Linked DNA regions of Homo sapiens. The protein of the gene in region 3 purifies or fractionates together with the protein of the main gene of each other region. This does not show direct contact. Each region holds a gene or a part of one and is shown on either strand. Other genes may lie near its edges.

Region 1 (3,500 bases), on a different chromosome or scaffold from region 3:
AAAATATCATTTAACTGTTATGGGTAGGAACGTGTTCCTGAAGTTCATGTATTAGAAACCTAATCCCTAAAGCAACGAAGATGGGAGGTGGGGCCTATCAAGAGATGATTAGGTCTTAAGGGTTCTGCCCTCATAAATGGGTTAATGTCGTTACTGTAGGAGTGGGTTAGTTATCAAGAGAGTTGGCTTATTATAAGCGTGAATTGAGCTCTTAAGTGTGTCCTTCTGTCATCAGATGATGTTGCAAGGAGGTTCTCACCAGATGCAGCCCCTCCATTCTGAACTTCAGGTATCCTGTTATAGTAGTACAAAATGGACTAAGAAAATATCAGAAATTTCCAACGTGAACTAGGCATAGTAAATGGCTAATCACAAACTACTAGACAATAATAAAATCCTCAAAAAAAAAAAAAAAAACCAAACCAAACCAAAACAAAACCATTACATTGGCCAGAAATTAACACCTTACCCATCAATAAGGATCTTAGTTATACCACATGGTAGAGCCATACAACTAAACAGTACACTGACATGCAACAAAAGGAAATCTAAATCTGTATGTACTGAGGAAGAATGAGGCATACGATACACAGAAAGAAAGCAGCAGAGTACATATAATCTGATTTCACTTTTAGAAAACTGGCTTCTCCTCTAAAAAAGATGCCTGTATGTTTTCCCAAGCACGCACAGAAAAGCTTTTGGAAGGATACAAAGAATGGGATGTGAAGAGGAAGTGTTCCCCCATCCATGTATGTATATTATTTTGTAGAGTTTTCTGTGTAATGATCTTGAGCCATCCTGCTCCCCTAATCTGAAAGTAGGGATACACTGGGAAGTAATTTGTAATAGTAGTAAACACCATGTGTTGTCTTAACAAGTGAGACTTGGGTCCCAGTACTAGATGTGCTATCAGTACTAGCTATGCTAACCTTGGGTATATCTCTCTTTCTGCAGTTTTCTTGCCTATTCAAGGTTGTTGGAAATGTTAAATATGACTTTATTCTTACTTATGATTAAACAGACTTTGATATGCATGCAAAGTCCTTGGCCTAGTGCCTGGCACATTAGGCACTCTAAATAGAATGTTAGTTACAGGAAACTGAAGAGGCAACAGAGAAATTAGCATTATCTAACCAAATGAAGAACACAGCCCAGACTGATAATGTCTGTTCTTAACTGCTTTAATCATAGTTATTAGAAATCCCAACACTTTGAACTAGAGTAGTGGCTCTAAACTGGGGTTGATTTTGTTCCCCCAGGAGATAACGGTTGTCACAACTGTGTTTGTGCTGCTGGCATCTTTGGGTAGAGGCCAGGGATGCTGCTTAACATCCCACAACGTGCAGGACAGCCTCCGCAACAAAGAATTACATGCATGATGTGGCATTCACATGTAGAAAAAAAAAAAGAATTATGTGGCCCAAAATGCCAATAGTGCCAAGGCTGAGAAACCCTGAACTAGAGCAGTAGAGGTTTAAAATCCAGCAAACAAGCAAGCAAAATCAGAACACAGGTGTTTAGGTTCATCCCCAATTAGGAAGCGTGGGCCAGAATGCTAGCTCCACAGGTGATATGATTTGCAGCTAAGGTTGGAAATTAACATATTTTAAGAAGCATATTTCATAAATTTTGACTATAACAAAGCAACTTATAATAAATTTGAATATAATAAAGCAACTTATATTATTTTAGAATTACCTATGATAGCCAATTTTCATGCAAATTACCAGACAGAAAACACTCATGTTAGAAAAACCAAAAAAGCTTGTGGCAATGTTCTTACAGTATTAAAACAAACAGCCTTTTGAGAAATGGTAGTTTAAGAATATAATAATGATAAAATAAGAGCAGGTCCACCAGGAAAATGCAAACCAAAACCACAAAATACCACTTCACGTCCACTAGAATGACTATAATAATAAAGAGATAATAAAGCAAGTGAGCATGTGAAGAAACTGGAACCCTCCAGACAATGCTGCTAGGAAAGCAGAATGGTGCAGTCACTTTGGAAAACATCCTGGTTATTTCTCAAAAGGTTAAACATACAGTTACCATATGACCCCAACAATCCTTCTCCTGAGTGTTTACCCAAGAGAACTGAATACACATTGGGCCAGACACAGTGGCTTACGCCTGTAATCCTAGCACTTTGGGAGGGCAAGGCGGGTGGATCGCTTGAGCCCAACAGTTCAAGACCAGCCTGGGCAACATGGCAAAACTGTCTCTACCAAAAAAAAAAAAACAAAAATTCATCCAGGTGTATTGGTGAGCACCTGTAGTCCCAGCTACTTGGGGAGCTGAGGTGGGAGGATCACCAGAGCCCAGGGAGGTCAAGGCTGCGGTGGGCCATGACTGCGCCACTGCATAATCATGCTAGCCTGGGTGACAGAGACCCTGCCTCAAAACAAAAAAACAAACAAACAAACAAAAAAAGTCTACACACAAAAATTATACATGAGTATTTATAGCATCACAACTCAACAGCTACAAAAAGAGAAACACAAATGTCCACCAACCAATGAATGGAGAATATGTGGCATATTACAATGAAATATTATTTCACAATACAAGTGAATGCTACAAAATGAACCGTGAAAACTTTATGCTAAGTTAAAGAAGATGGTCACAAAGGACAATGCATTGTATGACTCCATTTACATGAAATGTCTAGAATAGGCAAACCCAGAGACAGAATATTGACTAGTAGTTGCCCAGAGCCAGTGAACAATAGGGAGTTACTGCTAAAGGGTATGGGTGATGAAAACATAGTCTACAACTGATTGTGGTAATGGTTGAACAGCTCTCTGAATATACTAAAAACCAATGAAATGTATACTTTAATGGGTAGTAAACTGTACAGTAGATGAATTATACCCCAATAAAGTTATCATCAAAGTAGGCAACTGTGCTTTTCCCTTTCTGACTTACTTAGATTCCAGTCAGAAATTGTATCATCATCATCAATTTCATCATCATCATCATCTTCCTCTTCAATTCCATCTTCATCATGCTGCTGAGCCACCGTCCTCGATCGGTGAAAACGTGGCCGTATATCCTGTTCACTATCAGGAATCGTTTCGTCTTCTTCAACATCACCCTGTTGTTTTTTTAAGAGAAATTTTTGGTGGCATTCATTATAGGCTAATAGTATGTACATGAGTAAGAGAAACAGAATATCCAGAGATGGGGTCATGCACAGAATTCTGAAATATACTTCCAGAGTGATTAAGAACCACGCCCATGTACAGAACATATTCCTTATGGAGGGGCGAATAGACTGACCTAACACACCTGTTAGGTTATACGGCCCTTTCAGCCAACTACATGGCCTCCACTGGCTGGTATAATCTAAGTTACCTGAATCAAATTCAGAGCAGCATATATAAGAATGTTTTTAAAATAACTCCAAGTAATTAAGGGGAAATTAATAATAACCCTACCAATGTCACCATCTAGTACCAAATTAAGCAAGAATTTATCATTACTTAAACTTATGCTTC
Region 2 (3,500 bases), on a different chromosome or scaffold from region 3:
CTGGAGATATTTAATTAATTAAAAAATTAAAATTTTTTCTTAATTTTTTTTTTTTTTGGTAGAGACACAGTCTTGCTATATTGCCCAAGTTGGCCTTGAACTTCTGACCTCAAGCTATCCTCCAGCTTTGGCCTTCCAAAGTGCTCTAGTTTTATAGTCATGAGCCACCACACCAAGCCCCTTGACATTTTAAGTCACGTAAGGAATAGTGTGCACACCTTTACCACATCTCTTCCCACATGCCTTCAGGCACCCACTAACTTGTTACCCTAAGTCTCTCTTCTATACCTGCCTTTAATCTAATGTTCTCTCAGTGTTGCTGATGTTGGCTTAAGAACTGGGGAATGAAGAGATGATTTACTGACTGTGCTTCATCAATCAGGGCCTATACTTAATCCTTTAGCAATAAATTTTCATGTCAGCCAAATTTACCACTAAAGGATTCACCTGATATATTCTCTTTTTCTTTACCCCTATAAATTCTTAAAACTAAGCTAAGCAGGAATTAGCTTAGCTTAGCAGGTGTAGTAGGGACTCACACCTATACCTCCTCTACTTACCTTTTTTTTTTTTTTGGCCACAGGCCAAAAAGCATGTCTCCCCAGAGCTTCCCTTAAATACTTTTTAATAACCCTAAACTAAAATTCAGTATTAATGATGCAAAAGCCTTGAGGATCAGTAAGCTATTTCTCTATATTCCCTTGAAGTAATTCCTTTAGGCTAGGAGTGAAAGTTAATGATGTTATGATATATAATATTCAGCAAAAATGTTTTCAAATTTATACCAGAAGATGAGCTGTTTGGGTTCTTTCAAAGGAAGAATAAGAAAGGAGAAACCTCAAAACATTCAGTTGGCTGCACAGGAGAGGTGCCAGAGAAGTTGAGTGTAACCTAATGTCAGAGAAGAGCTGGAGTGCTGAAAGGGCTACCTGCTTGTGTAGGATCAGCGTGCCTCAAAATCTTCACATAGCCAGGCGCGGTGGCTCACGACTGTAATCCCAGCACTTTGAGAGGCCGAGGTGGGTGGATCACTTGAAGACAGTTCGAGACCAGCCTGGCCAACATGGCAAAACCGTATCTCTACTAAAAATACAAAAATAGCCAGGCAAAGTGGCACATGCCTGTAATCCCAGCTACTTGGGAGGCTGAGGCATGAGAATCACTTGAACCCAGGAGGCAGAGGTTGCAGTGAGCCGAGATCGAGCCACTACACTCCAGCCTGGGCAACAAAGTGAGACTCTGTCTCAAAAAAAAAACAAAAATCTTCACATAACTTCTGCCCAGTAAATAGCCAATAGAGGAATATTGAGGCTGATAAGACACAGAAGATTTGAGTATTTCTCCTTGTGTTGAAATGCTAAAACTCTAAGCCTTACTCTAACCCTGGGAAAGTATCAGCTTTGGGTTAAGGCAATATGATATACATATCATATGAATACATATGAATACATACATACATATGAATACAGTTCTCAATACAGCAAACTACTACATTCCCCTCCAAACATCTTGGTCCTAGTGGTGGAATTTGTTAGAGACACAGACTTTTCAAGTAATCTGGAGCTCTAAGTAGGAACTCTCAACTCAAAATTTCAGTGAATGCTCAACTTGGAGGAGGTAGCAACTGAAAATCTATACAAACTACAACCCTTTTTGATCAACAGCTTCTTATTTAAAAATAAAAAAAATTGGCCAGGCACAGTGGCTCATGCCTGCAATCCCAGCACTTTGGGAGGCCAAGGCGGGCAGATCACCTGAGGTCAGGAGTTCGAGACTAGCCTGGCTAACACGGTGAGACCTCGGTTCTACTGAAAATACAAAAAATTAGCCAGGCGTGGTGGCGTGCACCTGTAATCCCAGCTACTCGGGAGGCTGAGGCAGGAGAATCGCTTGAACCCGGGAAGCGGAGGTTGCAGTGAGCCAAGATTGTGTCACTGCACTCCAGCATGGGTAATAAGAGTAAAACTCTGTCTAAAAAAAAAAATCTATGGCTACACATTTAAGGACTGTTGGTGACTAGAGGAAACGAATTTTGAAGGCATGGGAATAGGGGAAGAAGAGAGAAACAAGGTTTTGTCCAGGATTCTTGAACAAGGCAAAGTCATCTCATGTATTTTCTAAAAATTTACCCTATTCCCCATGATTCTTATTAATAAAATGAATCTGGAAATATAGCTATAAAATGTGCTCTCATTTCAAAAGGAAGATGATGCTTTTCACTTACCATTAGGAAAGCAAAAAGTCACTCATTTTTCTAGTGATCTTGCCCCTCTCTCTCCTTTCAAACTGATGAGCCCAAAGAAACATAGTTAAAATAGGCCAACTGGATAGGGATGGATACAGCTTATTACTAAGGGTCAGAGGAAATTAACTAATACATATGGAGACTGAATCCACAGTGTCTGTTTTCCTTAGGTCATGTCTCAAGAGCCAGTGTTAACAAAAGGTGTTCACGGTAACAAAGATATCACTATGGATAAAAAAAAGTGGTAGCTCAGGACAGTGAGAGCCAAAAAACCCTCAGTTCACACTAAGTGCTCCCAAGTCAAACTATTTCTGAATTGAAAACCAGTATTTAAAATTTCTAGTGCACGTTTATTTACATACGAAAAAGGTAGATTATTTACTAATATAGTACTTGCTGGTAAACCTAAATTTATGGCTTAGCTGCCACGTGAGGACCTTGGTCAATTCATCTAACTTCTTTTCTTTTCTTTTTTGAGACAGAGTCTCGCTCTGTCATTCAGGCTGGAGTGCAGTGGCACAATCTTGGCTCATTGCAACCTCTGACTCCTGAGCTCAAGTGATCCTCCTGCCTCAGCCTCTTGAGCAGCTGGGACTACACGCATGTACCACCATGCCTGGCTAATTTTTGTATTTTTTTTTTTAGAGACAGAGTTTTGCCATGTTGGCCAGGCTGGTCCCAAACTCCTGTCCTTAGGTGATCCACCCGCCTCACCTCCCAAAGTGTCGAGATTACAGGTGTGAGCCACTACACCTGACCATCATCTAACTTCTTTAAAACTTGATAATCTCTAAAATATGTAAAGTCACCCCTCAGAGACTGTTACATTAGAGAACAGAACATCTCCAAAGGCGTGTAAGATTTTTGGAAAACGGTAAAAAATTCAAGATAATAGTTAATGGATTCCTATAAAATTCGTAACTCTCCATAAAGGAGCACCTGGTAGTATACAATGCATCAGTCTTACAAACTGTCAAAGACACAAAAGAGCCACAAACTCACCTTACAAACTGATCTCGTCCACCCACTGCAAACTGGTGGGTATTGGCAGGATTCACATAGATCGTATACAGCCCCACTTTCTTCTCTTTCTCTTTTGTCACCACCAGTTTCCTTTAAGAGTAGAAAAGCACAGAAAGTTATATACTCCAAAAGATCCAAATGGTCATGGCAAAGGAGAGCCAAGAGAGTCACATGGCTAATAAGAAACCAAAGAGATTCTCATTTGGAAAGAAAGAATTGTTGTGTTTTCTCT
Region 3 (3,500 bases):
GGTAATTAGTTGATTTAGTCATAACAAAACAGAAGTATCACCAAATATTTGCTCCTACTTTTGTTTTTAAATCATGCCTGAACTACTACATAGAATAATTCTTTATTCAGGAAAAAAATATTTCAATGAGTCTTTATTTACCTTAGGGAGCTCTAAAATTTGGAGCCAGCATAATAAAAAAGATAAATTTATCATGTTTCATAAACTGTCATTCCCACTATAGTCACCAAGCTCATTAATCTTAAAAGCAGGTATTGGTATCTGAGCAATTTTTTCACTTTCAGTTTTGCCCAGGTAGACATAGAGTTTCAGAAAAGGCTGCCAAAAATCTAGTGTCGGGAAGAAGTTCATATGAACACTGATTTTATTACGAGTAAGTCAATCTGTATATACATATAATCAACACAACCCTTCCAAAAAGATCTAGACCATTTTGAGAATAGAGACTTAACATGTGGGGCTGGGTGCAGAAAAGTATACAAAGAGAAAACAAAAAATTGCTATGTTACACACTACTAAAATACATTCAACCCTCAGTATCTGTGGGTGACTGGTTCCAGGACCACTCATACTAAAATCTGCACTCAGGCACCACGGTCAGCCCTACAGAAACCACAGATACAAAAAGTTGGCCTCAGCATAGGTGAGTTTTGCATCCCATGAATACTACATTTTTGATCTACATTTCATTGCAGACATGGAGGGCTCATTGAGTTTATTTTTTAAAATCATGATTAAGTGGACCTGTGCAGTTCAAACCCAGGTTGTTCAAGGGTCAACTGTATTTACACATTTCTTCAGAGAAAATCATGCTTCCTAAACTTCTAGAAAATTTAGGTCTTATATAACTTTAAATAGAACAAAACTGTTATCACAGTATTTTAATCCATTATTATGTTTGAATTAATATCTATGTCATGAGAAAGCACAAAATTGTAACTCTGTACTCCTCCCCACTAATAAAACTGAAAGGTCCTTTTAAGCTTGAAAATAATATACCCACATTGCATTATATTAGGACTTACAGGTATAAGCCACTGCAGAACCATTTTCTGACAACACTGTGGTAGGTCAAAGAAAATGTTTAGATCCAAAAAATGAGATTACTGTAAGGAACAAGTATACCATCAAATAGATGGAGTAAATGGTCCTTTTTTTCTGAAAACAGAAACACATCCTGGACCTTACAAATGATTATTTTGTACTATCCCATTCATAAAATATTGTATATATAAATGACAGAAATCAAAATCATTTTCCTTCTAAAATTAGCAATAAATGCTATAGTGCCATGTTAGATTATTTTGTGTCTCCTTTGCTAAGTTAAACCAAAGTATTCATTAGCTAATTCATTCACTCAATAGCCTGAAACACAAAAGTCCTCCAGACAACTAGAGAAGAACTGGATCATCCCATAGTTTTAAAAGAATACATTTATCATAAACTATAAACTTTATTATGTACAATAATCTATTTGATTTAAAGCTAACAAAGGATGATTTAATTAGTATATTTTTCCATAAATTTCACTTGATCATAAAACAAAATAAATGCAATTTAAAAAATTATATTCAAATAAAAGGACAGATTCACAAATAGAAAATTCAAAGCCTCAAAAAAAAAAGAAGAAGGATGGGTTTTCTCCCCCAGAAAAAAATTTAAGGGTAATTAGACATTGGCTGAGTCAATAATATACATTAATACATTAATTTAAAAAAAAAACAAAAAAACAAGCAAAAGGGCACTTGTTCAAAAGAGCAGACTGAATCATAAAGATCTTTTGCTTTCCGAAGTGCCTTTGAAATGAGTAAAGACACTGTAAATTTTAAAACACCCTTAATAGGCCTAGAAAACAAGAAATGGGATAAATAGCAAACCAGAAAGTTTAAAGAAATCCTAGGTAAAATTTGCATGTACAGAAAAATCCCAGCAGCTTCAAACATCAGAGAAAAAAAGAAACCCTTTTCAGGAAAACAAGAACACTAAATTCAGAGTCAACAACAATAAAAAAATCAGCGAAACTTATTAAACCAGAACAATATAAACAGATCATTCCTACTCTACTCATATAGAGCATAAGAGGCCAGGTACCTGTCATGCCCTCAGGCTGAGAAAGAGAACCATATGCCTCTTTTTCTGATACGCATCTTATTTTGGGTGGTAGGTACTAAGAGAACCAAAGAGGCATACCAGCAGATCCCATTTCAGAACCCAGAAGCCTAGGGAGGTGAGAAGCTATGCCAAGGAGTAAAATATACACGGTGCTCAACCTCTCCTGGACTCTCCAGGTACCAATGCTGCCTTCTAGTCTCCTTGCTCTGAAAGACATGCCTGTTAACAAACCCACCTATGTTATTTACAGCCCACTGTCAACACTGTCATTCAATTAAGCTGTTGAAGCAACCCTACCAAACTGCTGAAGAAAAGTCAAGAACATTACTTCTATTAGTCAATTTAGTCATCATAAATATGAATCAACAACCAAGGATCACTGGACATTTGAGCAAACCCAATTATCATGGAGGGGAAAAAAAGAACCAATATGAACACATAACAACTGACTTTAGGAAAAGGAGATAAATTAGGAAGCAGAAGAGAATTTGGCCAAATGCTAATTAATGGCTTTAGAAATATTCAAAAGGATACCACATTAATTAAAAAATGGGTTGCCAGAAAAAAGAAACAAGAAAGAATCCTTGGAAGTTAGAAAATTACTAACGTTGGCCGGGCGCAGTGGCTCACGCCTATAATCCCAGCAATTTGGGAGGTTGAGGTGGGTGGATCACTTGAGGTCAGAAGCTCAAGACCAGCCTGGCCAACATGGTGAAACTCCATCTCCACTAAAAATACAAAAATTAGCTGGGAATAGTGACGAGTGCCTGCAATCCCAACTACTTAGGAAGCTGAGGTAGGAAAATCACTTAAACTCAGGAGGCAGAAGTTGCAGTGAGCCGAGATTGCGCAACCGCACTACTAGGCTCTGTCTCCAAAAAAAAAAAAAAAATGCTGATGTGAAGAATTCGGTGGATAGATGAAAAACAGAATAGACATTGCTAAAGGCCAACCTGGTGATCTGGAAAATAAGCTGTGAAAATACTGTAGAATGAAGAGCAAAGAAAGATAAGGAGATGGAAAATAAGAGATAAAATGGTAAGAGACATAGAGGACAGACATCTTTTTATCAGGTCCAACATCTTTCTCATCTCTCTGTTCAGAGTTCCAGAAGCAGAAAAGAGAGACAATGAAAGGAAGAAATAATAAAAGAAAAAACTGTAAGAAAATCTTACAGAACTAAAGACCATTTTCAAATAAGTTAGGGCTCACTAAGAATTCTTGTGAAATTCCAGAACATCAGTAAGAAAGAGAAAATCCTACAAACTTTCAGAGCTAAAAATAAAAGCCACCACCACCAAAATGTAAAACCCCAAAACCCAAACAACAAAAGAAAACCAAAACAATAGGTTGTCTACAATGGAATAAGAATAATAAGACCACCAAAA
Region 4 (3,500 bases), on a different chromosome or scaffold from region 3:
AATGTCAGTGTCTGGATTAACAGTGTATAGTTTATGGAAGATATTCTTTCCTCCTTTTTAAGAGTGAGGCGCCATTTGCTTCTCCCAAGTTTTCTGGACTCTGCTGTTTTCCATGATTTCTCAGGTTGTGAAGTCTTACTTGTAACTTGATACTAATATCTGTAATTTGGGTATCAAACATGAATGTATTAGAAGTAGCCTGATATTCACTGTTTTCTTGCCTGGAAGTTTGGGTCATCTTCTATAGTTGTTCAACTTCAGTTGTTTGAAAAACGTGAATGTTCTGAAAAAATGTGACATTTTTCAAAAGACACAGGCCAATTCTGAGTTGAGTATCTCTGGTTTCCTTTGGTCACCTTGAAAGTGCACTGTGTTCCCCGAAAGCTTGACTTTTTCCTTCTTTCTTTTAATTTTTAACATAATTACGGCAAAGTCCTTTGATTGTCTTTAGTACTTTTCCTGAAGCTGAACTGCTCCCCGCTGTAGTTTTTCTACTACACATTCATGTTCAGTTCACATTCTTGTTTTTATGCTACTTTCATATTTGAAAATGACTCAAAAGAGCCCACAGTGACGACACTGACTTCTTTACCTTCGCTGCTCATTTACCATAGAAATTGCTTCCAGTTCTATATTTCTCTCATAAGCCAGGGTTCTTTTTGAGTTGCCAGGCTTGATTGTTAAATCATACCTATTTTTCCTGACATTTTGTTTTTATTTCTGCTTTCTTAAGATTTAGGATACATGTTTGAGTTCATCGTGTCCCCTTCTGTGACTGTTAATCATTCTAACAAAGCTACTTGGAAATGATACCAGGTTTCCATCACTTTCAAGTCCCGACAAATTCACCCTTATTTCTGCTTTGTTGTCAAGAGGGATTCAGAAGAATTAACACACCCTTGAGTAGAAAATGATTTGTACCTTTCACTTTCCAAAGGGAATCTTTCATCAGTAAATAATTTCCACATGTGGAGTTGAGTTTTGCTGCCACATTTCACACACAGGGATCTGTGTGTGCTCCATGGTGCTTTGACTTCTAAAAGCAATTATGAGAGAAGAGCAGATTTCTTTAAACATGCCAACCACCGTCTTTAAAAATACAAATGTAAAATGAACTGCAAATGGCAAAGTCTGCCCTTGCTTTGTGCAGAGAGGAGTATGTTAAATGTGTTGTTGTTCCTGAGAAATGCTTTGTTTTATCATGCAGCCCATTGCAAAATAACGTACTGTCAAGAGTTCAGTTTAACATAAGCTTTTCCCCTTGCTGTCTTTGAAGAGTTTTGTTGTTGTTGTTGTGGTGGTGGTTTTCTGTTTGTTTTTGTAGACACCCAGTCTTGCTGTGTTGCCCAGACTGGTTTTGAATTCCTGGCCTTGAGCGATCCTCCCACCTCCGCCACCCAAGCGCTGGGATTACAGGCGTGAGCCGTAGCACCCGGCCTAGAGTTATTTTAAATTACAAAAGTAATACATGTTCTTTGTACAGAGTTCAAATAGTACAGAAACATATAAAGTAAAAAGTGAAGGGAAGGTCCAATTCTCCCCTCCAGGAGGGCGCCACCCTCGATGGTTGTCTGTCACGGCACTGAACTGAAAGGCTTTCGTTGTCTCCTCCCTGTGTTCACCTTTCCATCTCCGTCGAACTTTGCTTGTCCCCTGTTCATCTTTTTTTTTTTTTTGTGAGACAGAGCCTTGTCTGTTGCCCAGACTGGAGTGCAGTGGCACCATCTCGGCTCACTGCACCCTCCGCCTCTCAGGTTCAAGCAGTTCTCCTGCTTCAGCCTCCCAAGTAGCTGGGATTACAGGTGTGCACCACCACGCCTGGCTAATTTTTGTATTTTTAGTAGAGGCGGGGTTTCACCATGTTGGTCAGCGTGGTCTCAAACTCCTGACCTCAAATGATCTGCGCACCTTGGCCTCCCAAAGTGCTGGGATTACAGGCTTGAGCCACCACGCCCAGCCATCCTCTGTCCATCTTACAACTCATTAAGTATTTTTACTAGAGTGGAAACTGCAGTTATATACTTCTGAGCGTTTCTATTATTTTGTCAGGAAGAGGCAAACAGAGATGATAGACAAAGCAACACAACCAAGTTTGGACATTCCAGTTTCGACCAGGCTGAAATTTCCCACAGTGAATCCGAACATCTCCCAGCTAGGGATTCTCCTTCACTTAGTGAAAATCCCACAACGGATGAAGATGACAGTGAGTATGAGGACTGTCCAGAGGAGGAGGAAGACGACTGGCAGACGTGCTCAGAAGAAGACGGTCCCAAGGAAGAGGACTGCAGCCAGGACTGGAAGGAAAGCTCTACTGCAGATTCTGAGGCTCGGAGCAGGAAAACCCCACAGAAGAGGCAGATACACAATTTTAGCCATCTGGTATCCAAGCAGGAGTTACTGGAGCTCTTTAAGGAGCTACACACTGGGAGAAAGGTGAAAGATGGGCAACTTACGGTCGGACTGGTAAGATGACATATGTCATAACATTGTTACCACGTGATTGTCTTTAATCCCCATTTTTCAGTAGCTGCACGACCCCAAAGACCAACCAGGCTTCCGGCATCGTAGGGAACATTGCCCTCTTGTTGCCCACTGGCATCACGGGATTAGGCAGTGGGATAGACAGAGCCCAACTCAAAGGAATCAACTTCCTCAAGGCCTGTGTTGGTAACATACCTATTCACATTGAATGTATTCTCCAGTCTCCTTTCAGTTCAGCTTTTCCTGCCGTGTGAAGTACCAAGACAGCAGAATGAGAGAGATGTTAATGTTGTCTTCAGACTTCAGCCCAGTGTTCTTTGGGCACCCTGTGATCCTTGCCAGCTTATGCTGTAAATGTTCCAGATGCTTAATAGGGAGAATCCCAGCATCTTGGGGCTGGACGAAATATGACAAATGCATTAGTTGCATAAACACTGCATAGTAGATAGGGGAAAGCAGATCCCATCCCCAGCCTTACATACCCTAATTCCAGAAGTGGCTGCGGAAGTGCGCAAACCCCGAGGGGCTACGACATGGCTCTAGATGGCCCCATCCTTAGCTAAGGAGATGTGAGATGTTAGAGAAGGTATTGATTATAAAGACCTATCCAGAATATAACAGTGAGGGAAAGGAGGTCATGGCATGTTTAAAGTCTCCCAGCTTTTCAGTTACATGCTAAGTGTAGCTAATCCTAGTTAGTTTTGAGCCCCCTTCTCTCTGCCCCAACCCCCTGCCCCAAAATGCCTGTTTAAAATGACTACAGTAGATTAGCATCTTATTTTAGTGCAGTAGTTAAAAGAGCTGTCTGTGGAATCAGACAGACCTAGGTGTAATTCCCAATTCAGCAGTAGAACTAACTTGTTAGGAACACGGGGAAAGTTGCTTAATGTCTCTGAGCTTTAAAGCTTCATTCTCTATATTGTTGCTAAAAATTTGTATCAGAAAGTTCAGCTTCTCTACAAGTTTTCTCACATTTATGGAAAAACTGAGCATCCTCCCTCATTTTCTGAATTTCTTAC
Region 5 (3,500 bases), on a different chromosome or scaffold from region 3:
AATAGCCTTAGTCTTAGTGTGGGCAAAGAAAGGTTTTCATAGCACTTGGTCTCTGAATCTGTAAAGGAAGACAGAAAGACAATTCAAGGCTGGAGGATTCCCAAGATTCTAATACATAAATCATGCCATATAGGTCAGTTATTTACAAGGGTTAAAAAGTGAGTAGGGAATGTGTAATTTACAGTCAACATCCAGCCCTGATCTTGATTGTATCCTTCCACAAAAGTAATACTGCTGATTATTATCTCCATAGCCCTAAAATAACTTCACTCCCTGTTGACTGCCCTGACTTGCTTAAATAAAGCAGCTTCAAAGCAAAAGATGAAAAAGTCCCAAACTCCATTTTAAAACATATGGCAAAACAAGACATAATTTATTTTTTTGTTTCTGTTAAAGTATAAGGAGGGAAAATAGGTAGCAAAGGTTACTGCTACCTACTTTTCAGAAAACATGTATGATATCAACAGATATGATGCTCACCCACATCAGTTCCCTCTTCAAGGACAGCCTTGTTTTGAAGTTCAGGACCTGCAACATCTGTGAAAACTCCATCTTCGTCCACTAGACAATCCTATAAAGTATCATTTTGAACAATTAAAATATCAAGACATTTTCTCTTATGACAATATCTGGCAAAACAATATATATAAAAACATCTCAGTATAGCCTGGTCTTTTTCTACATTGAAATTCTAGGTACTTGGCCGGGCGCGGCACTCAGGCCTATAATCCCAGCACTTTGGGAGGTCGAGGTGGGCAGATCACTTGAGGTCAGGAATTTGAGACTAGCCTGGCCAACATGGTGAAACCCACTTCCACTAAAAATACAAAAATTAGCCAGGCATGGTGGTGTGCACCTGTAGTCCCAGCTACTCGGGAGGCTGAGGCAGGAGAATCGCTTGAACCCTGGAGGTAGAGGTTGCAGTGAGCCGAGATCATACCACACCACTGCACTCCAGCCTGGGCGACAGAGCAAGACTCCCTCTCAAAAAAAAAAAAAAAGAAAAGAAAAGAAAAGGAAATAGGAATTTGTGAATTTTATACATTTAAATCACCAAAGCCAAAATGTGTTATTGAAGCATATCCATAAACTTTAATAACAAAAGTAACAAAATATATTAAAACATCTTTGAGTGGTCTCTATTGTTTCCAAATCTATGCCTATATACACAGTTGTTCCCTTTCTGACTCACCTTTTAACTAAACGGAAATACTTGCTAAGTAACTGAAGTATGTAAAGTAAATGTAGAAAGGACTGTTTAGCTAAAACAAACAGGCTTTTTCAGGGAATAAAAGTAATTTGTCTATGTGACTTGATACTAGAAAAAAAGTATTTTAAAAGTGCCCCATGATATATATTCTTCAATTCTAAAGTGCTAATTTTCTATTAATTCTGGGAAATCTTTTTCAATTAGTACGAATTAATGAAACTTTAGAGTACTACACAAACCTGAGCATTTCACAATTATGATGACAAAAGTCATCATTTTTAAAAAATGAAGATGTTGGTTAGAATTTATCATTTCCTTTTATTAAGATGAATAATTAAAAATGATAAAAGAGGAACAGTACCATGGGCAGGTTGTGCTGAGACGCTACACCGTAGTCTTCCATACCATGAGCTGGGGCTGTGTGAACCAATCCCGTTCCTTTTGCCATGGTCACATGATTTGCAGGTAAAAGAGGAGAGGCTTTATCAGGAATTAATGGATGACTGCAAGTACCATTTTCCAAATCTACACCTGTGGGGAAAGAAAACCACTATTAAGAATCATTTTATATGGCAAATCTATCTCCTTAAGCTTAGCAATAGAGTATCAGGTTAAATGTGCAGAATCTAGAACAATACTGGCTAGGCTTAAATTCCAGCTTCCCCTTTAACTTGTTCTGTGACCTTCTATAATCTATAAAATGCAGATAATTATGGTTCCCACCTCAGAGGGTTTCTGTGAGAATAAACAGAGTTAATGTAGTTTAAGTGTTTTGATACTTACTGCATCTACCACTTAATATTCTCCCTCACCACCCTCCCAAAATGATCTCTAAGTAATTGATAAGAAATAATTCATTTTTTTCCGGAAAGAAAACCTACCCCATACAAATTACTTCATTTTTAGCTCTTCAACATTCCTACTACTTTAATAAGTAGTAGCTACGTGACACCAGCTTATTTTGACAGGGATAATATATATACTCCTCCACAATATGGTGACTCAAATAGCAACTCAATAATTATCTGATAGTAAGAATTTGAAACAATTATGCTATCTAGACAAAAGATCTTTAAATTCAACCTTAACACTTTCAAAAATCTTGTGATTTTTAGCTTCTATGATAATGTATAACTTGACAATGAAGTCTTTAATATCCTCTGCATTTATAAAAGAGCAGGGGGCTGGGTGCAGTAGCTCATGTCTGTAATTGCAGCACTTTGGGAGGCTGTGGCAGGAAGATTGCTTGAGCCCAGGAGTTTGAAACAAGCCTGGGCAACACAGTGAGAGAGGGTGTGAAGTAAATTATTATCTTGGTTTTTATTTTTATTACCCTATTGCACCAAAGAGGACCAAATGGTCTTCAAAATTCTTAAGCTCCTTTCCTGCCTCTGACATAAAAATCTTTTTATTTTTGTTAAGGTTGTTTAAACTTCTCATTGGCTTGTATCTGAACTGATTAATTTAGAGGGCTTTCCTATTTAGCTAGGCAGTCTTTCTAGGCAGTTTTTGTATCTTTATTCATGTGATAGATTTTTTAGCAAGAAATTAAAAGATATATCATACCTAAGGATCAAAGATAATTTTAGCCCAGGCATGGTGGCTCACGTCTATAATCCTACCACTTTGGGAGGCAGAGGCAGGAGGAACACTTGAGCTCAGGAGTTCAAGATCTGCCTGGGCAACATAGTGAGACCTCATCTCTTTAAAAATAAAATAAAATAAAATAGAATTTTAGTCCAGGCACAGTGGCTCATGCCCATAATCCCAGCACTTTGGAAGACCAAAGCAGGAGGATCACTTGAGGCCAGGAGTTCAAGACCAGCCTGGGCAATGTAGCAAGACCTCATCTCTACCAAAAAAATTAAAAATTAGTCCAGCATGGTGGCACACACTTGTAGTCCCAGCTACTCAAGAGGCTGAGGCAGGAAGATCACTTGAGCCTAGGATCCAGAGGCTGCAGTGAGCCAAGATGGCACCACTGCACTCCAGCCTGGGCAACAGAGCAAGACCACGTCTCAAAACAAAATGAAGAACAACAACAACAAAAAGCTAATTTTAAACTTCCCTAGACTTCCATAATTATATTTCAAAGCAGTCACTACCTCAAAAGTCCCAAATTATAGCTCACAAAGAATTATTTTGGGCTAGGCACAGTGGCTTACGCCTTTAATCCCAGCACTTTGGCAGGCCAAGGCAGGCAGATCACTTGAGCCCAGGAATTCCAGACCAGTCTGGGCTACACAACAAGAATTCATCTCTGTAAAATATTTTTTCAAAATTAGCCGGG
Region 6 (3,500 bases), on a different chromosome or scaffold from region 3:
CTTGGCCTATGAGCTTGTCCCGTGGACGTGGAGGGGCAGGAGGCAGAGGCCAGGTGCCTGGGGTCCTGGGGTGCTGTCCCCCACTTGGCTAAACCCACACTTCCACCTAGTTAGGCCGCCAAGTACAGGGCCTGACCCAGGCCCTCGGATGCCCCCTCCCCACCTACCTGCTTGCCCATGGGCTCGGGGTTGGTGACGGTTGTGCTGAAGAAGCCGTCCCACTCGAGCCTTCCATAGAGGCCAGCCCAGTGGTTGTGCCGGTTCCCGGTGTGGGGCAGGCACCAGGGGATGAGGGTGTTGAACTGCCTGGCTGCGGGGTCGCAGGCTTTGCCGGCTGGAAGACAGGACAGTGATGAGGCTGCAGTTGTGGGATGGGGTATAGGCTTGGGACAGTGGCTCTTAGAGCTTTGGGAGGCAGAGATGGCACCTCCTGTGCAAGGGGCCCCCTGGGGTGGAGCAGCCAACAATCCTCGTTCTCTGGGCACTGTTTTTATTATTAGTATTATATGTCTCGCTCTGTTGCCCAGGCTGGAGTGCAATGGCATGATCTTGGCTCACTGCAACCTCTGCCTATGGGGTTCAAGCGATTCTCCTGCCTCAGCCTCCCAAATAGCTGGGATTATAGGCGTGCGACACCACGCCCGGCTAATTTTTGTAGTTTTAATAGAGATGGGGTTTCACCATGTTGGGCAGGCTGATCTCGAGCTCCTGATCTCAAGTGATCTGCCTGCCTTGGCCTCCCAAAGTGCTGGGATTACAGAGGTGAGCCATCGTGCCTGACCTGCTTTTATTATTTATTTATTGTTTTTTTTTTTTCTTTTTAGAGACAGGGTCTCACTCTGTCTCCCAGGCTGGAGTGCAATGGCACAATCACAGCTCACTGTAGCCTCCTCAACCTCCCAGGCTCAAGTGATCCTCCCGCCTTGGTTTCCCAAAGTGCTGGGATTATAGGTGTGGGCCATGAACCCAGCCTGCTTTTACTACTCAACATGGTCAGCAGCTACCTTCTCTGGGACACCCAGGCTTGGTGTGTCTGTGCCCTGCCCTGGCCTCCAGGTTCACAGGCCAAAGGCCCAGGGCTCTGCCTTCCTTCCCCTCAGCCCACCGGGAACCACAACTTACAGGACCCACCTTCCACGCAGGAGCAGACCCCACGGAGGGCCCCAGAGCTGCTGCGGCCGTTCTTCCTGTCATGGTGGGTATACCGCAGCTTCCTGGCCATGGTGCCGTCTGAGAGCCGCACCTCGATGTTGGGCAGATCGCGCCAGTCTGACCCTGGGGCCAAGGGGATGTGCCGCATGCGGGCAGCCACCAATGCACTCATGTCCTGAAAGAGTGTGGGGGGCCCAGCTGTCACCTCATGTGAGCAGCATCCGAGCATCCATGGTGGGCTGGGAGCTGGGAACACCATGGTGACCAGGAAGCCCCCTGGGGCTCACGCCCATCGGGAAAGAGACAGTCAGGGATATCGCACTTGGCTCGAGGCCACGGCAGGGACCTGAGGCAGCGCAGGTGTAGGAGAGCGTGGGAATCTAAGCTGAGCCTTTAGGGTGGGGGAAGGGGAGTGGTGCCAGGGGATGGTGAAAGGGCTGGTCTTGGCATCCTGGGAAAACATGCGGGGAGAGGCAGCAAGGGGGAAGGCAGTGGTGGGTGGGCAGTGGCTTGACACCATTCCAGACCAAGTCCAGGACTGCGGGAGCTCTGACACTTCCCATGACCATGCAAGAGAGACCAGGGGTCACACAAAGGCTGAGGACTCGGGAGGAGGAGCCTGGGATCAGATTCCATGTCTCCCCTGAGTCTTGGGCAGGCTGACTGTTCCCACGAGGCTGCTGGGCTGGGCCTCGAGGAGGAGCCGCTCTGTCAGGGTGCCATTACCTTACAGATGTGGTCCCTGAGGATGGGCTGGTACTGTGCGCCCCGGAGCTGCCTCTGGAACCAGGACTGAGGCTCCCCGTTGTAGGAGATCTCCAGTGCCGAGGCTCCATTCCGCACCTCCGGCAGGTCGGACATCGTGTCTCGCACCGTGATGGTCCGGAAAGGACCCGAGCTCAACCTGCAACAGAGGAGGAGGTCAACACCTCTGGAGATGCACGCAGCAGCTGTCCCCTCATCACAGGTGCCACCCCCTGCCTGCTCAGATGGCCTTCTCCCGAGATCACAGCACTGCCCGAGGTCACATGGGTGGCAGTGTGCCTGGATGCCATCTGGAAGGGGGGATGGGGCTATGGCGTGGGCTTTGTGGATGACCACAGCCAAGCATGCGGCTGGCCGCTCTGCACATGCTATCTACTAGGGAAGCAGATGATGCAGGGTCAGAACTGGAGACCACAGGTGGCAGAGTGCCATGTGGCAGAGCACCGTGTGGCAGGGCAGATGCTGTACCATCCTCTCCTCCCCAAGCCTCACCAGGGAGTACTCACGGGCCCCATGAGCTACTGAGGCCTGCTCGGCAGTGTGTGGAGGAGCGACGGGGGCCACCTACCTGGTTATGTTGCTCACAAACTTCTTGTCATCCACCACCACGCTCAGCTGGCAGGCCCGGGGAGCAAACACGTGCAGTGGCTCCGGGAACAGAGGGAGCTTCTCTCCAGGGGCCGCGGCCAGGATGATGGCCCGCCTCCTAGTCTGGGCCACGCCGTACTGACCGGCCTGTGGGGGAGAAGGACGGACAACCCCACCGTCAGTGGGACACTCCCAACTGGACTGGCCAGACCCAGGCCCAGGGTCAGCAGCCTGAGTCGGGAGTGGCTGGCCAATGCGGAGTGCACTTGCAGAAATCCCCAGTTACCTCAGCAGGCGTGCTCCTGGTCAGAGGAGTTTGGAGCAGATAAAGAACAAAAGCAGCTGAGCCCAGGGGACAGCCACTGGGGAAGGTGGGAGCAAACCCTGCGGGGAAGTCCGGCCAGCTCTGAAAGCACTGCAAGGGCCCCAAGGTCTTAGCACTCGGGGAGAACACTGGAGACCAGGAGCCCTGTCGCTTCCCTGATGGCTGTGGTCACAAGGACAGAGAACGTGGCTGCAACAAGTCTTGTCTGGTGAGCCTGAGTCGCCCTGAGGCTGAGCTAGGGGACCGGGTAGCCAAGTGCTTGCCCACTTAGGCAGACATCCTGTGCTAGCATCTGGATAGCTGTTTCATTTTTAATTATGCCCTCAATTGCTGAGCTGATACAGAGAGGATGGGGGATGCTTTTCAGATAAGGCCTGGGCCCCACAGACTATGTCCATCCCTGTCCCTGCAGACACAGCCACCTGGAGTGCAACCCTCGGCCATCTGTGGGGGTTTGTGTGCGCAGTTACCCAGAGCAAAACTGTCTTTTAAACCAATCGAACAGCTGCCGCCTACACATGGCTCTGCGCACCTCACTTCCCCTCCCGCTCTGTGCAGACTCAGCCATTCCACAGTGCTCCATGGTGGGCTGCTCACCCTTCCCCATCGAGGGAAAGGAGCCAGGAGCTGCATGGCGAGAAGCCCATTGTAGCCAGCCCTCCCAGGCATG
Region 7 (3,500 bases), on a different chromosome or scaffold from region 3:
GAAACATGAACTATTTGCACTACTGCTTACTTGCAAATCAGAAGGATAATATATTATGTACAAGGGTGACAAACATTTTAGCTTTACAATTAGAAAATGTGTAACTACAAAGAGTCAATAAAAATCAGAAATTCATATATTGAAAAGTACTGATATCCTCTCAAATCAGCCAATTAAAAAAATGGAGATAACTAGCATTTATAGAGTTTACAAGGCACTTTTATATAAAGTATTTGCTTTCATTCTCATAAAAATCTGATTAGATAGGTAGTGTCTCCCCTTGACAGGTCAGAAACAAAAAGGTGGAAGAAATATAATGCATAACCACACCTTCTGACTACGATATCTGCGATCTTCCCACCATCCCTCATTGCCTCATATGTAGATAAACCCAATATATGCTTGAAGAAAGCATGTTTCTTACTGAGACAACGGCTTAAAGTGAAATTTTGGGATAGGATTATTGTAGTTAAAATGACAGATGACTAAATAAGAGAAAAATTCCATGGCCAACACATATGAAAAATATGACAACTAGTAAACTAGTTACTGTGGATTACATCAAGATGCACCCATGTGGTCTGAGATGAAAGATCAGTATGGTAGGGACCAGTTTTCACACTGTTTACATCATTTTTCTTGAAGTTGCCATCTCTTCTTATTAAAACAGTATAGCATGGCCGGGCATGGTGGCTCACGCCTGTAATCCCAAAACTTTGGGAGGCCGAGGCAGGCGGATCACGAGGTCAGGAGATCGAGACCATCCTGGCTAACACGGTGATCCCATCTCAACTAAAAATACAAAAACTTAGCCAGGCGTGATGGTGGGTGCCTGTAGTCCCAGCTACTTGGGAGGCTGAGGCAGGAGAATGGCTGAACCTGGAAGGTGGAGCTTGCAGTGAGCCGAGATTGCACCACTGCACTCCAGCCTGGGCGACAGAGTGAGACTCCGTCTCAAAACAAACAAACAAGGAAGAATAAAAACATAGTCCCTGAATGGATCCATTATATAAAGACCCAATACAATATTCCCACACCATCCAAACCTTTGGCATTCTTGAGCTAGAACAAATCCACCTCTATTATGTAGGGAAATTATGACTTATGGATAGAGCGTGATTCAGAATAGTTACGTAAGTTTACTCATTTAAAAAATATTGGCTGGGCATGGTGGCTCACACCTGTAATCCCAACATTTTGGGAGGCTGAGGCGGGCGGATCACGAGGTCAGGGGTTTGAGACCAGCCTGGCCAACATGGTGAAAACCCATCTCTACTAAAGATACAAAAAATTAGCTGGGCGTGGTGGCACATGCCTGTAGTCCCAGCTACTTGGGAGGCTGAGGCAGGAGAATCACTTGAACCCAGGAGGCAGAGGTTGCAGTGAGCGAAGACTGTGCCACTGCACTCCAGCCTGGGCGACAGAGTAAGACTCTGTTTCAAAAAAAAAAAAAGAAAAATAATTTACTGGACACCTACCATGTGCTCATTATTTAGATCTATCTGGGGTACTATGGGAGACTCTGAGGTGAATAAGATAAGGATTTAAAGTCTAGAACAAGGGCCAGCAAACTTCTGTAAAGTGGCAGATAGTACCTAAAATAAAAGCACTAAAATAGGCTTTGTGGGCCATGCAGCCCCTATTGCAAATACTCAACTCTGCCACTGTAGCATGCAGGCAGCCATAGACAGTACACAAATTAATGTGTACTGTTCCAAAAAAGCCCTTTATTTATAAAAACTGGTAGTTGGCTGGATTCCTGGTCTAGAACCAGTGATAGGATATACCCAAATATCTACATACTCAACCTAACTGTTCAGGCTTTTATTTCTTGCCTGAACTGTTATAAAAGCTCCCCCTCTTGTCCTGTGTCGCCAACTCCACTCCTCTAACTACTCCACTCGACAGAGCTGCCAGAGTGATCTTATGTTTTAACACTATGTCACTGCTATTCTTAAAACTCAATGGCTTAGCACTACTCACAGAAAAAAAGTCCATACTTCTTAGCAGAGTATAAAAGGCTCTTTGTGCTCCATCCCTACTTTAGTCTCCTGACTTATCCCCCACAATCTCTCTACCATCCCTCCCCTAACTTCCATGCTGAAGCAATACTAAACTACTCCAACGCACTATGCTATTCTGTGTCTCTGCTTCTTTGCATATGTTGTTCCCTCTACCTAAAAGGCCCTGCTCTACCAACAGACATGCATATGAAGGTTTCTCTCACCCCACAAGTTGACCATATCTGACATGAGTTCACTCTCTTGCCTTGCATGTACTTTCTGTTACTGCACGTGGAGGGTTAGACTGAGGGCAGCTTAATGGTAGGTACTTTACTTCTTTGCAGTCGGGGTATTAACTCCTAGCACAGGGTCTAGCATGCAGTAGATGCCGAATAAATCTACTGTGAACCAAAGTCAACTGACAGTACCATAAATGATACATTACTATTTCAAGAAGGAAACGGGTATAACATTCTTGAAAGGGAAAATGTGAAAAGGTGTGAGGACAGTGGTAGCATATGAGCCAGGTTTTGAAAAGACAGGTAAACGTAGAGGATGAAGATCCTCAGTGATGCAAAAAAAACAAAACCAAAGCAGAGATGTTGAAAAATAAATTAATGTCTGATGACCGGTGATTATTTAAGTTTGGCTGAAGTATGTGGAGAATAATCAGGAGCACATTTGGAAAGGCCAGTTAGGGTCAGATCTAGAGGACCCAAAAGACCCAAAAGAAGCCTGTACTTTGTTTTGTAAATGATGGGGAATCACTGAAAGTGTCTGAATGGTTGAATGATATGATACAGGAAGGTTAATCAAAGAGAAGGTGGGTAGTGGCAGTGAGAACTAAAAGGCACTGCCAAGACAGAACTGAAAAAATTTGGCAAGTGACTTGACCTAGGGCACAGTAGAGTGCCAGGAATCAAAGATAATCCTGATGTTTTAAGCCTGGGAAATTGGGATAAACAGGGAAATGCGAGCAGAAAGGAAAGTAGTAAAAAAGACAATAAATTTGGTTTTGCAATATTAAATCTGAGACCTGATAAAACATCTAGGTGAGGGTATTTAGTACAAATCTGAAAGTAGGAGACAGATATGTTCAGTAAATCTGTCTACAGGTGGTAACTAAAACCTAAAGGAGAGAAGAGATGGAAGATCAAGAGCACTTTATCAAAATAAAAGTATCCTAGTACGTATTTCTACCATGGTAACTACAATATTATTGTACTAATTTGAAAATATGTCCATTTTCCTGACTCTGAACTCCTTGAGGGAAGAGTTCACAATTATCTTTATGTCTCCAGCCCAATAGCTTGAACACATCAACTATTCAATATATTTGCTGAATAAAGCAGCCCCCAAAATTCTAGTACGTGGAAACTCCCACTTCCTCTGACATATTACAACTTTTTTTTTTTTTTTGGAGACGGAATCTCGCTCTGTCACCCAGGCTGGAGTGCAGTGGCGCAATCTCAGCTCACTTCAAGCTCTGCCTCCTGG

The links.
Region 1: the proteins of DNAJC15 (region 3) and TNPO1 purify together in Homo sapiens (affinity purification with mass spectrometry, with the first as the bait; one large-scale study listed by BioGRID). This does not show direct contact.
Region 2: the proteins of DNAJC15 (region 3) and DCAF8 purify together in Homo sapiens (affinity purification with mass spectrometry, with the first as the bait; one large-scale study listed by BioGRID). This does not show direct contact.
Region 4: the proteins of DNAJC15 (region 3) and LSG1 purify together in Homo sapiens (affinity purification with mass spectrometry, with the first as the bait; one large-scale study listed by BioGRID). This does not show direct contact.
Region 5: the proteins of DNAJC15 (region 3) and IARS2 purify together in Homo sapiens (affinity purification with mass spectrometry, with the first as the bait; one large-scale study listed by BioGRID). This does not show direct contact.
Region 6: the proteins of DNAJC15 (region 3) and DNMT1 purify together in Homo sapiens (affinity purification with mass spectrometry, with the first as the bait; one large-scale study listed by BioGRID). This does not show direct contact.
Region 7: the proteins of DNAJC15 (region 3) and NSF purify together in Homo sapiens (affinity purification with mass spectrometry, with the first as the bait; one large-scale study listed by BioGRID). This does not show direct contact.

Annotation. Positions count from the first base shown.
Region 1 is NC_000005.10:72,882,661-72,886,160, reverse strand, and holds part of TNPO1 (transportin-1), read right to left. Parts: intron 3,098-3,500; coding exon 2,929-3,097; intron 1-2,928. UniProt on the Homo sapiens protein: Functions in nuclear protein import as nuclear transport receptor. Serves as receptor for nuclear localization signals (NLS) in cargo substrates.
Region 2 is NC_000001.11:160,228,050-160,231,549, forward strand, and holds part of DCAF8 (DDB1- and CUL4-associated factor 8), read right to left. Parts: intron 3,359-3,500; coding exon 3,248-3,358; intron 1-3,247. UniProt on the Homo sapiens protein: May function as a substrate receptor for CUL4-DDB1 E3 ubiquitin-protein ligase complex.
Region 3 is NC_000013.11:43,072,086-43,075,585, reverse strand, and holds part of DNAJC15 (dnaJ homolog subfamily C member 15), read right to left. Parts: intron 1-3,500. UniProt on the Homo sapiens protein: Negative regulator of the mitochondrial respiratory chain. Prevents mitochondrial hyperpolarization state and restricts mitochondrial generation of ATP. Acts as an import component of the TIM23 translocase complex. Stimulates the ATPase activity of HSPA9.
Region 4 is NC_000003.12:194,651,692-194,655,191, reverse strand, and holds part of LSG1 (large subunit GTPase 1 homolog), read left to right. Parts: intron 1-2,049; coding exon 2,050-2,463; intron 2,464-3,500. UniProt on the Homo sapiens protein: Functions as a GTPase. May act by mediating the release of NMD3 from the 60S ribosomal subunit after export into the cytoplasm during the 60S ribosomal subunit maturation.
Region 5 is NC_000001.11:220,104,132-220,107,631, reverse strand, and holds part of IARS2 (isoleucine--tRNA ligase, mitochondrial precursor), read right to left. Parts: intron 1,742-3,500; coding exon 1,572-1,741; intron 572-1,571; coding exon 481-571; intron 1-480.
Region 6 is NC_000019.10:10,135,954-10,139,453, forward strand, and holds part of DNMT1 (DNA (cytosine-5)-methyltransferase 1), read right to left. Parts: intron 2,653-3,500; coding exon 2,486-2,652; intron 2,057-2,485; coding exon 1,879-2,056; intron 1,328-1,878; coding exon 1,132-1,327; coding exon of another isoform or gene 1,123-1,131; intron 335-1,122; coding exon 168-334; intron 1-167. UniProt on the Homo sapiens protein: Methylates CpG residues. Preferentially methylates hemimethylated DNA. Associates with DNA replication sites in S phase maintaining the methylation pattern in the newly synthesized strand, that is essential for epigenetic inheritance.
Region 7 is NC_000017.11:46,695,169-46,698,668, reverse strand, and holds part of NSF (vesicle-fusing ATPase), read right to left. Parts: intron 1-3,500.